Regions from separate parts of the Homo sapiens genome. Here region 2 is linked to region 1. Evidence: fine-mapped expression QTL. A gene starts in region 1. The other region holds a variant in brackets. All regions are shown on one strand. Distances are from middle to middle. Region 1 holds the start of OXSM (3-oxoacyl-ACP synthase, mitochondrial). Region 2 overlaps NGLY1 (N-glycanase 1).

Region 1 (5,390 bases):
CACTTTGGGAGGCCAAGGCAGGAGGACTGCTTGAGGCCAGGAGTTTGAGACCAGCTCTTGCTCTGGCAACATAGCAAGACCCCAACTCTACTAAAAAAAAAAAAAAGAAAGAAAAAAGAAAAACAAACAAACAAAAACAAATAAAATAAAATTCAAATGTATAATTTAGGGGTAGGTAAACTATGGCCCTGGCTAGATGCCTATTTTTGTAAATAGTTTCATTGGAACACATTCATGCCCACACATTTACATACTGTCTACGGCTGCTTTCACATGACAATGGCAGAGTTGATTAGTTGCAACAGACTCCATGGCCCACAAAGCCAAAAATATTTACTATATTTTTCCCATTACAGAAAAGGTTGCTAACTCTGGCTAATTTAACTGAGTAAAACATAATATGATTTAAGAAAGCTAAACTATTAGCTATCTATTAACACATTATCAGGGACTTTTTATTTTTATTTTTTTGCATTTTAAATGCACTAATCTATAACAGTTAACTTAAATGTAGTCCTTAAACCAGCAGTATCACCATCACCTGTTAGAACTACAGAATCTCTCAGCCTGGGAAATAAAGTGAAACCCCATCTCTACAAACAAATTCAAAAAAAAGAAAACTGGTCTCAGTGGCGCATTCCTGTAGTCCCAGCTACTCAGGAAGCTGAGGTGAGAGGATTGCTTGAGCCCAGGAGTTAGAGACTGCAGTGAGATAAGACCAGCATGGGCAATACAGAGAGACCCTGTCTCTAAAAAAACAAAACAAAACAGAATCTCAAGCACCACCCTAGACCTACAGAATCAGAATTAGCATTTTAAATAAGATCCCTAGGTGATTATAGTTTGAGAAGTGCTGATTTGAAAAGAACAGAATCCTGTTGAAATGGAGCAAAACCAGACACATCTAGAAGGGTTGACTTTACTTTCCAAGTCTGATGAAGGGTCAAAGAGGAGGACTTTGTGAGGGAGCACACTGATGCTTAAGCACAAATGCAGGCGTGAAAAGTTGGCAAAGACACACATGGTCTTTTCCACAACTCCATTGGTTTTTAACTCAAATGCAATTTTTGTAAGTATGTTCAAATGCTTTGAAATACTTCAAATGTCTTAAGCAAAGAACTAAACAATCTTGTTTAGTCTAAAAAAGAAAAACAACAGAGATACTGTACACCAAGGCCAGACACTACAACTTCCCTAATTTGGGATTCCCAATAAAGTGTCTTATTTGAAGAAATATTTCGAAGGAAATAACCCATCTTTACCTTAAGGCACCTTCTCCTTCAGGATCAGGGGCAGTTATGTGACCAGCATCACCTGAGAGTCCATAGCCCAAAACTTCTGCATAGATCCGGGCTCTTCTTTGAACAGCATGTTCATATTCTTCCAGCACCAGCACAGCTGCACCTTCTCCCATTACAAAACCATCTCTCTTTGGATGAAATGGTCGACATGCCAACTTGGGATCTGAGTTTGTGCTCAGAGCCCGGGCTCTGGAAAACCCAGCAAGAGATAAAGGGCTAATACAAGAATCTGTACCTCCAGCCACCATCACATCAGCATCACCATGGGCTATAAATCTAAATGAGTCTCCCACAGCATGAGCTCCTGTGGTACAGGCTGTGGATACTGCATGATTTGGGCCCTTGAGTTTATATCGAATGCTGACCTGGCCTGCTGCCATATTGACCAGAATCTTAGGGACAAAAAATGGGCTAACTTTATTGTAACCTTTTGTCTGAAAATTCAAAGCAGTTTCAGAAACAACTTCAAGAGGAATCATTCCCATGCCAATTGCAACACCAGTAGCCACTTGATCAGCTTCTGACTGAGGATGCCAGCCAGAATCCTTCATGGCTAATTCTGCAGCCCCAATGGCCATGATGGTGGGAGAAGACATGGACTTGATATCTGATTTGGACACAAAGTTTTGTTCATTGAACTGACCTTCATCACTACCTCTTGGCACATAAGCAGCAACACTGCAAGGGATACTCTTATACTCTTCACCAACCAGTGAAACAATTCCACTCTCTCCTCCGATAAGACGATCCCAAACCAGGTGAGTTCCAACACCAAGAGGAGTCACTAAGCCAATGCCTGTAATGACAACTCGCCTATGCAATCTGGATATTGGCACAGTTCCGAAAAACTTCCTTTTACTTCTTAACTGTTGGCATAATCTTGAACATAGAAGACGAGTGCTTGTAATTTTCAGGAAATTTTGCAGGCAGTTGGACATGATTAAGATTCAGATGATCAGAAACACATTCCTGTAAAAGACCACAACACACCTAGGAGGTATTCTTTTAAATAGCTTAAGGGCCTAAGGAAAAACATCCAAGGTGTTCCTTTGGGTGCTTGATATGAGCTGCTAATGAACACAGGGAAAATGTTACATACTTTCAATTTATACCTTAACATCAAACTATCTGTTTAAACTTACCTTCTTTTTTAGACCTTAAGTGCCGTCAGACATTTGAAGACAAATAAATGAATTGATGATTCATTCGAGTCACCAAAACAGTAATTCAATGAAAAATATAAAGGCACCTCCAGCCTGATTTGAGCTGCAGGAAGCATCCTTTGTCAGGATTACTGATAACTTCTTCTAAATAGCATTTCTGGTGTCAGTGGCACAGAAAACACATTTCAGGGCATATTCTTTTAAGTAAGTAAGTGGGCTTTATCAATCTTCAGTACTTAAGGATAACCAGCCTTTTCAAAACGCTACCCAGGGCCAAGAGCCCTAGACTGAGCGTCTGGATACATGGGTTGGCAATACACTCTGTGACCAAGCTTGCGATGGGGGAAGGGGACAAGTCTTTCCACTCCTCTAAACTTCTCCAATTGAATCATTGGTGGAAGGAGGGGTTACGACTAGTGGATCACTTCAAGGGTACTACGAAGGCCAGGGGCGGGAGTAAAAGAGTGTAGCCATTCCCTGTATCGCCTCTCAGGCACCACCACACATGTACACAGCCCGAAGAAGCATGGCGAGAGAAAAAGAAATCAGGCCCCAGGTCCTCGGACTCCCCTCTCGAAATTCAACCCCGACTTGATTTGAATGTAAAGGAGGAAAGGAGGGGCGAAGGAGGAGGGTAGCCAGCGATACCTGTAACGGGGCTACCCCGGACACTTCTCCACAGTCGGGGGCGATGACGCTCTCGAGCGCACGCGCACACGCACGTACGCTCATGCGCGCTCGCACGTACGCTCATGCGCTTTCCCACGCACGCGTCCCGTTCGACTCTCTTTCCGCCGGTTGACTTTAAGCCGCGTCACCTTGGCTGAGGTCAGACCGTGGGAGGCGGCTGGGTAGCTGTTTGCGTGAGCAGAGACGCCCCTCTCGGAACCTCAGTGACTCGCCGATAATCGAGGACCTGCCAATAACGCGATGAGGTAGCATTTTCACCCATCAAAAAGGCATTTTTCTTTGGCAGTGATAATGCCCAAATATTCCCTTTTGTCGGAGAAGGGACACCATCGTATTCTACTGGAATTGTAAGAAAGAATTAAGGAAATTCTCTGCAGTTTCAAAGTTATTGCTATAGCTCGCAACGTTATTAGTAATTGTGAGTAAAGTGGAATTAACCAAAATGGCCAACATCAGGAAATTTGTTGTGTATCTTGTGGTACATCCAAATGCCATGCAGCCGTTTAAAATAATTCTGCAGGTGAATATTTATTAATGAGATGTTGCGACTATTTGTTAGGAGACATAGTTACAAAACAGTATATATCCGTTTTTTCAAAAATAATTCTTTAAAGGTCTGCAAGATGTATACTGATTGTGATCTTTCCCTCCTTATTTTTGCTTAGCTTTATTTAATAAAGCTTTTCTACAATAAACAAATGTTTTTGTAATAAAGTTTTTACTTTTTAAAAGTTGTCACCAGGCTGTTCTGCCTATGGAGTAGTCATTCTTTGTTCCTTTACTTTCCTAATAAACTTCCTTTCACTTAAAAAAAAATTATCACCAGATTTGAGACAGTGCTCAAAAATTGTCTCCATTGTCACAATGGAGACATTTGTTTCTAAGTGTGAAAAATTCATTAACTGTTTGCTTAGAGCTGACTGCAAACCGATAAAGGGAAAATATAACATGAAAATGTAAAAAAGCAAGAAGTCGACAAGATGGTATTCATCGAACATCTGTTTTTCACATGCTATCCCAGGCGTGAGTTTTGTCCTTGCTCTTCTTTAGAAAAATGGTTGAGCATAGAATCTTCATCTGGACCTTCTAGTCATATTTATGGTTTTTTCTGGGCAATGCCTCTTGAAGCCATTGTTTCCAAGTAGAGTGCTCTGCATTCTTTCCTACCCCTACAGAAGAATGTGAGTCAAGCTTAGCTTTCCAGGTTGGTCCTGGATTTAAATGAGTTTGGAAATCTATTTTGTTTAAAATAATTCAGCAAAGCTCAGTTTGACCTTCGTCCCAGGCCTAACCAGTCACCTCTAGTTGATCCTCATTCAGTGACAAAGTAGAGTTTCTTGAAGAATTAAAACAAACACATGTGGTTATAAAGTAACACTTGATGAGTAAGTACCTAAACTTGATCTCTTTTCATTGCTGTCTTTAAAATAATAGTGTGAAAATACCTACAATATTTTCTCTGAAGCTGAACTCATAAGAAACATACAGTTTTAATGTGCTATTTCTTTTGTAATATCACAAAATCGTCTTGGCTAAGAGGTGACAAAATCTTTCAGAAAAATAAAAAGACCATCATTTTTGTATCTACCTCTTATCACCTTTTCTTTGATCTGGAAAAGGGTGGGAAATTTTATGATATTTAATGGCTTTACATATTTGGTACCATATTTCCTGCTACAATTCCATCGTGTCTTCTTGCACCAAAATCTTCAAATGGGCTCTGCTTATCCTACCCTCCTATTAAGACTTCCTAGGTTTGCCTTAAATTCTTTGTAATCTGATTCAAAACTATCTTTCCAATTATGGCTCCCATTCTCTATTAAATGAGCTTGCCACCCAGCAAACTGATTTTCTCACTATACATGTCTTGATTGACCCTAACTTTTCTCATCTCTGTGCTTTTGCTATTTTCAACAACCACTCATTTTCTTCCTATCAATGCTTGAAGTTTGAATGCAAAAATGAGTAGAGGTATGGCTCTTGCTTTCAAGAAGTTTATGGTCTAGTAAAGGGAGACACCCATAGAAACAAGTAAGTGCAAACTGTTGAAACAGGTGCTATAGTGGAATTATTATAACACAAAAGGGACAATGAGGTCTGTGCTACCTCGTAAAGTCAGAAAAGGCTTCAGAGAAATGATCCTTGAACTGCATCTTGGAAATGAATGTTTGTCTAGTAAATTGGGTGGGAAAGGGCATCCTGGCAGGAGGAGAACAAAGGCCTGGAGAAATGAAGT
Region 2 (5,390 bases), 57 kb after region 1:
TGGGGCAAGAAGCTTTCCTATGTCATAGCATTTTCAAAAGATGAGGTAGAGCATAAAAGAAAAAAACTTTTTTCCAAAAGTAAAATATATTTTTTTCTTTTATGACAGCTTCATGAATGTATAATTAACATACAATAACCTGCATATATTTAAATTGTACAGTTTGATAAGTTTTATTTGTATACACTGAAATCATCACTGCAAATCAGTATTCATTGTATGGATGTGCCATAGTTTACCATTTCACCTGTTGATGGCTATTTGGGTAGTTCCCAGTTTTTTTCACAATTTCAAATTAAGCTGCCATGAACACTCAGGCACACAAGTCTTTATATGGGCATATGCTGCCTTTTCTCTTTGCTTAATGCCTAGGAGTAGAATGGCTGCATTATATGGTAGATATACATACAACTTTTTAAGAAACCACTAAACTATTTTCCAACGTGGTTGTGCCATTTTACATTTTCGCAAGCAGTATGTAAGTTTCCAGTTTCTCCATGTCCTTGCTAACATTTAGTATGATCTGACTTTTTAATTTTATCCCCTTTAATAGGTGTGTAGTGGCATTTCATTATGGTTTTTATTTGTACTTCCCTAATGACAAATAATACTGAGCATCTTTTTATGTGTTTGCTTACCATCCATATGTCCCCTTTGCTTATTTTTTTTAATTGGGTATTGTGTTTTCTTACTGTTTGGTTTTGAGAGTTCTTTATATATTCTTATATAAGTCCATTATCAGATATGTGCTTTGCAAAGATTTTTCTCCCTATCTGTAGTTTGTCTTTTTATGCTCTTAATGATTTTTGAAGAGAAGAAACTGGCGTTCAGTTTACCAATTGGTTGTTTTATGGATTGTGCTTTTTGATGTTATATTTAAGAAATTTTGCCTAGCCCTTGGTCACAATGATTTTCTCCTATGTTTTGTTTTAGAAGTTTTTTTTGGTTTTATGCTTATGTCTGCAATCCATTTTGAGTTAATTTTTTTATATGATCCAAGGTGTATGAAGTTTTTTTTTACATATGGATAATGAATTGTTCTAGCACCATTTATTGAAAAGATTATTTTTTCTCCATTGAATTGTCTTTCCACTTGTATCAAAAATCAGTTCTGTAATATAAATCTAATACAATAAAAATGGATAAAATTTTTATTTGTTGAATTTTGTGGAATCAGCTTTGCAGATAAATTTTAAAAAGGTAATGTTTTGAAATTTTCACTTTTTTATCATAGCGTTTCTGGTTAAACTATCAACTGTTTAGGAATGAATAAGTGACGTATTCTCTTCCGTTTATTTTATAGGCTTTTACGTTTTATTTTATTTTATTTTAATTTTTCGAGACAGTCTCACCCTCTTGCCCAGGCTGGAGTGCAGTTGCATGATCCCAGCTCACTGCAACCTCTGCCTCCCAAGTTCAAGCGATTCTCCTGCCTCAGCCTCCTGAGTAACTGGGATTACAAGCACATGCCACCACACCTGGCTAATTTTTTTTGTTTGTTTTTTTTCAGTAGAGACGGGGTTTCACCATGTTGGCCAGGCTGGTCTCCAACTCCTGACCTCAGGTGATCTGCTCACCTCAGCCTCCCAAAGTGCTGAGATTACAGGCATGAGCCACTGCACCAGGCCCCATGACTTTTAAATTTTAAACAAAGGATAGTATTCTAAAAATTGCATTTAAGGCTGGGCGTGGTGGCTCATGCTTATAATCCCAGCACTTTGGGAGGCCAAGGTGGGTGGATCACCTGAGGTCAGGAGTTCGAGACCAGCCTAGCCAACATGGTGAAACCCCATCTCTACTTAAAACAATACAAAAATCAGCCAGGCGTGATGGTGCATGCCTATAGTCCCAGCTACTCAGGAGGCTGAGATACGAGAATCTCTTGACCCTGGGAAGTGAGACTGCAGTGAGCTGAGATCACGCCACTGCACTCTAGCCTGGACAACAGAGCGAGACTTCGTCTCCAAAAAAATGCATTTAAAAATTACATACATTCTAGGTATTTAGTAAGTAAAGGTTGATGGTTGTAATCTTGTTAAGTATTTGTATTCTGTTATTTGTTTCAGGTAGTTGATGTCACTTGGCGATATTCCTGCAAACATGAAGAGGTGATTGCCAGAAGAACTAAGGTTAAAGAAGCATTACTTCGAGACACTATTAATGGGCTTAATAAGCAGGTATGGTGTGGCTATCTTTTTTGAAAGAACAGTTGACATTTTTTATGTAATCGAGAATAGCCGTTTATTAGCCTATTGAAATTCTTAAAGTAGTAGCATTGTTTTATAAACAAGAATATTTTAATATTCTTTTTGAATATTAAAGAATAAAAATATTCTTTTTGTTCATTGAAAATTTTGCGGACTCATTTTAAATATTATGAGTTATTTTGGATTAAACTGTCTCATTTCAAAGTTCTTTGAAACAAAATTTCAGTATTGGTAGTACCTGACAAAAAATGTGTTGTCTTATTTATCAGTGTAACTGTGCCTTGGATATGACACAGACTCATATTTATGTATTATGTATGTACATACACACACACACACACACACACACACACACACACACACACACACACACACGTCCATGTGAGGAAATTTCTGAAGCAAGGCACAGGAAGTTATTAACAATGACTACTTCTGAGAGGAGGAACTGGAGTTCCAAGATGAAAGGTTCAATTTTTGTTTTATACCCCTTTGATAGTATTGAAATTTTTAACTCTATACATGTGGGTTTTTTTCATAAATTAAAAAATAAGCAGTGAATTTTGCTGTAGCAGGCAGTTAGAACAGGGCAGAGCACATTAATCCAATCAGTGATAATGATTCCAGGTGAGGTTTCAGTCTATTTTGAATCTGCACTTACTCCTGATGTGTAGCCCTTCGGAGATCTCTACCTGAAAACCTGGATTATTTGCTAGATCCCCTTGCATTAGAACACTCTGACCCTCAGTTTATTTTTACCCCAGCACTGTGATTCTGCTAAAAATTCTGCTTTGATTTCCAGCACTT[T/G]AGTCACTATTTTGTCCTTGGCTTCTCAGCCTCTTCTCATGCCACTTAATAATTGACAAATGACTGGAAGGGAAAAGAGGTGCAGTATGTGCCCTTCACCTCAATTCTTTTCTTCTCTTGGAATCTTGACTTCTCAAGTTCTGGCTGCCTTTACAGCTTTCTGTTGCACTCAAACAGGTGTTTATATGTGAGTGTTCTGTTTGTGTGTTTCCACTAGCTTTTCTAGCTTTTCTCAGTAAGACATTCTGACACAAGCCAGTCTATCATATCCAGAAACAGAAGTTGCTACCTTCATTATAAATAAATCTAGGACAGTAGAGCTCATGGAGAGTTGGAAATAGGTGTTAAATGATTTCCCAACATAAAATTTATAAAATTATTTAAGTTTTCCACAGTGTCCTTTTTATTTTCTGAATAATATATGTTTGAAAATAAAATTCAGTACTTGTTTCAAGACCTCTTAAAATGCAAGTGTTTTAAGTATATTCTTGCTTAGAGATGGACCTATACATTCCCCTAATCTTAACAACTTTTTTAAAAAACATGAATTACAGAGGCAACTGTTTTTGTCAGAAAACAGAAGGAAAGAACTTCTCCAGAGGATAATTGTGGAGCTTGTTGAATTTATATCTCCCAAAACCCCTAAACCTGGAGAACTTGGGGGAAGAATATCTGGGTCAGTGGCTTGGAGAGTAGCCCGAGGTGAAATGGGTCTACAGGTATTTAATTCATTCTAGCATGATGATCCTTTTACTTTCCTGCTTCATATACTATGCTCTTCCTATACTATCCTCCAACTGCATTGACTATGACCTTTCAGTTAACTTGAGAGTAATTATTTTAAAATGCAAACATTTGAAGAGAACCAGTAATTGATTTACATAGCATTATCGTGTAAGAGTTAGCAAAGCATTTTTAAAATGGGACTTAAAATTTTTTTTACCTTATGTAAATTTTTAGTGCAGTGTAACTTTTACTGAAGAATATACAGGAAAATGCACAAATTATAAATGTACAGCTTAATGAATGTTTACAAATTTAACACCCATGTAATCGCCAACCAGAATAAGAAATAGATCACTGGAACCGTAGAAACAAGCGTGAGTTTCTTTCCCCACTGCCTTACACCCTCGAAAGTAATCATTATTCTGGCTTCTAACATCATATATTAGTTTTGCCTGTTATTGTGCTTTATAAAATGGAATCATATAGCATGTACTGTTTTGTATATAGCTTGTTTTGTGTAACTTTGTGTCAGTGAGATACATGTTGCAACGTGTATGGTATGTTCTCATTGCTGTATAATTTATTGTATGAATGTAATTTTTCACTGTTGATGGCTATTTGGGTTATTTCTAGTTTTGGCTGATATAAATGGTGCTGCTCTGAACATTTATATTCACGTTTTCAGTGAATATGTTTAGGCATTTTGTTGGATGTATACCTAGGAGTGGAATTGCTAGGTAATAGAGTATGAGTATATTCAGCTTTAGTACATATTGCCAAACAGTTTTTCAAAATGGTTATGCCAGCTTATACTCTCACCAGCAGTATATGAAGTTTTTCGACATCTTTGTGTACACTTGGTATTGTCTATCTTTTCATTTTAGCAGTTCTGGTGGCGTATAGTAGTATCGTGATTTTAATTTGCATTTTGGTGATGACTAATTATGGTGAATGCCTGTTCTTTAAACTTTTGGATATCCTCATTCTCTTTTGTGAAGTGCTTATTTAGGTCTTTTAAAATGAGATTCTAATGCATTTAAAAGAATGCTGTTTTACGTTTTTCCTCTCCAGATGAAAACTTTATGGAGTGGAGAAAATACAGAATTTGGGGAATTCAGCTGATGAAAGTGTTTATTTCTTGGTATATGCTTGCATATATCTGATATTGGCTAGAAATTGTTGGTGGCATGATTACTGTTATATTAAAATTTATTTTAAGATACCACATGATTAATCTTCCAAAATTAAATAACAATGGAAATATAATTTCCATAGGTAGGTCCTAAAGTTAAGGGACTAGGTAAAAATCAGTGTGCTAGGCTTTGTAACAGGCATTAGGGCAGTATAATAGACTGTCCTTTGCCCTTAGGGAGCTAAAGTTGAGTCACTGGAGAGCATTTAATAAAATGTTTAGGAAATATGCAATGAAAAATGCTTGAAAGAAAAATAACTCATCACAATATCAGTATCAAGCAGTTCCAAACAAATTAAAGTTGTATTTATCTACTTTTTCTAAATTTGCCATTGTTACAGTTCATTTCTCTAGTAACAGAATATGTTTTAAAGGAGTGAATTATCACTAATAAATTTTATGTTTGCTTTTTAATTTATCCCATCGTCTGTAGCGGGCAGTTAAAAGTGTTGGTTCAGCCA

Evidence for each region. PIP is the estimated chance that this variant, and not a neighbour inherited with it, causes the effect. A credible set is the group of variants that fine-mapping cannot tell apart.
Region 2: its variant is the best candidate, but not a certain one, in a credible set for the expression of OXSM in blood mononuclear cells (TOPMed, PIP 0.72).

The regions. Positions count from the first base shown.
Region 1 is chr3:25,787,870-25,793,259 of GRCh38, reverse strand. It overlaps OXSM (3-oxoacyl-ACP synthase, mitochondrial), which reads right to left and starts at 3,170. Exons shown (of 3, transcript NM_017897.3): 1 at 3,113-3,170; 2 at 1,263-2,270. The coding sequence starts at 2,239. It also overlaps a transcript of NGLY1 not described here. RefSeq lists enhancers at 2,873-2,942, 2,953-3,022, 3,162-3,691 and a silencer at 3,125-3,344.
Region 2 is chr3:25,730,659-25,736,048 of GRCh38, reverse strand. NGLY1 (N-glycanase 1) reads left to right here. Exons shown (of 12, transcript NM_018297.4): 7 at 1-45; 8 at 2,067-2,177; 9 at 3,566-3,730. Among named protein-coding and RNA genes, the nearest start is that of NGLY1, 50 kb to the left of the region's middle. The variant T/G (reference allele first, on the strand shown) is at 3,012.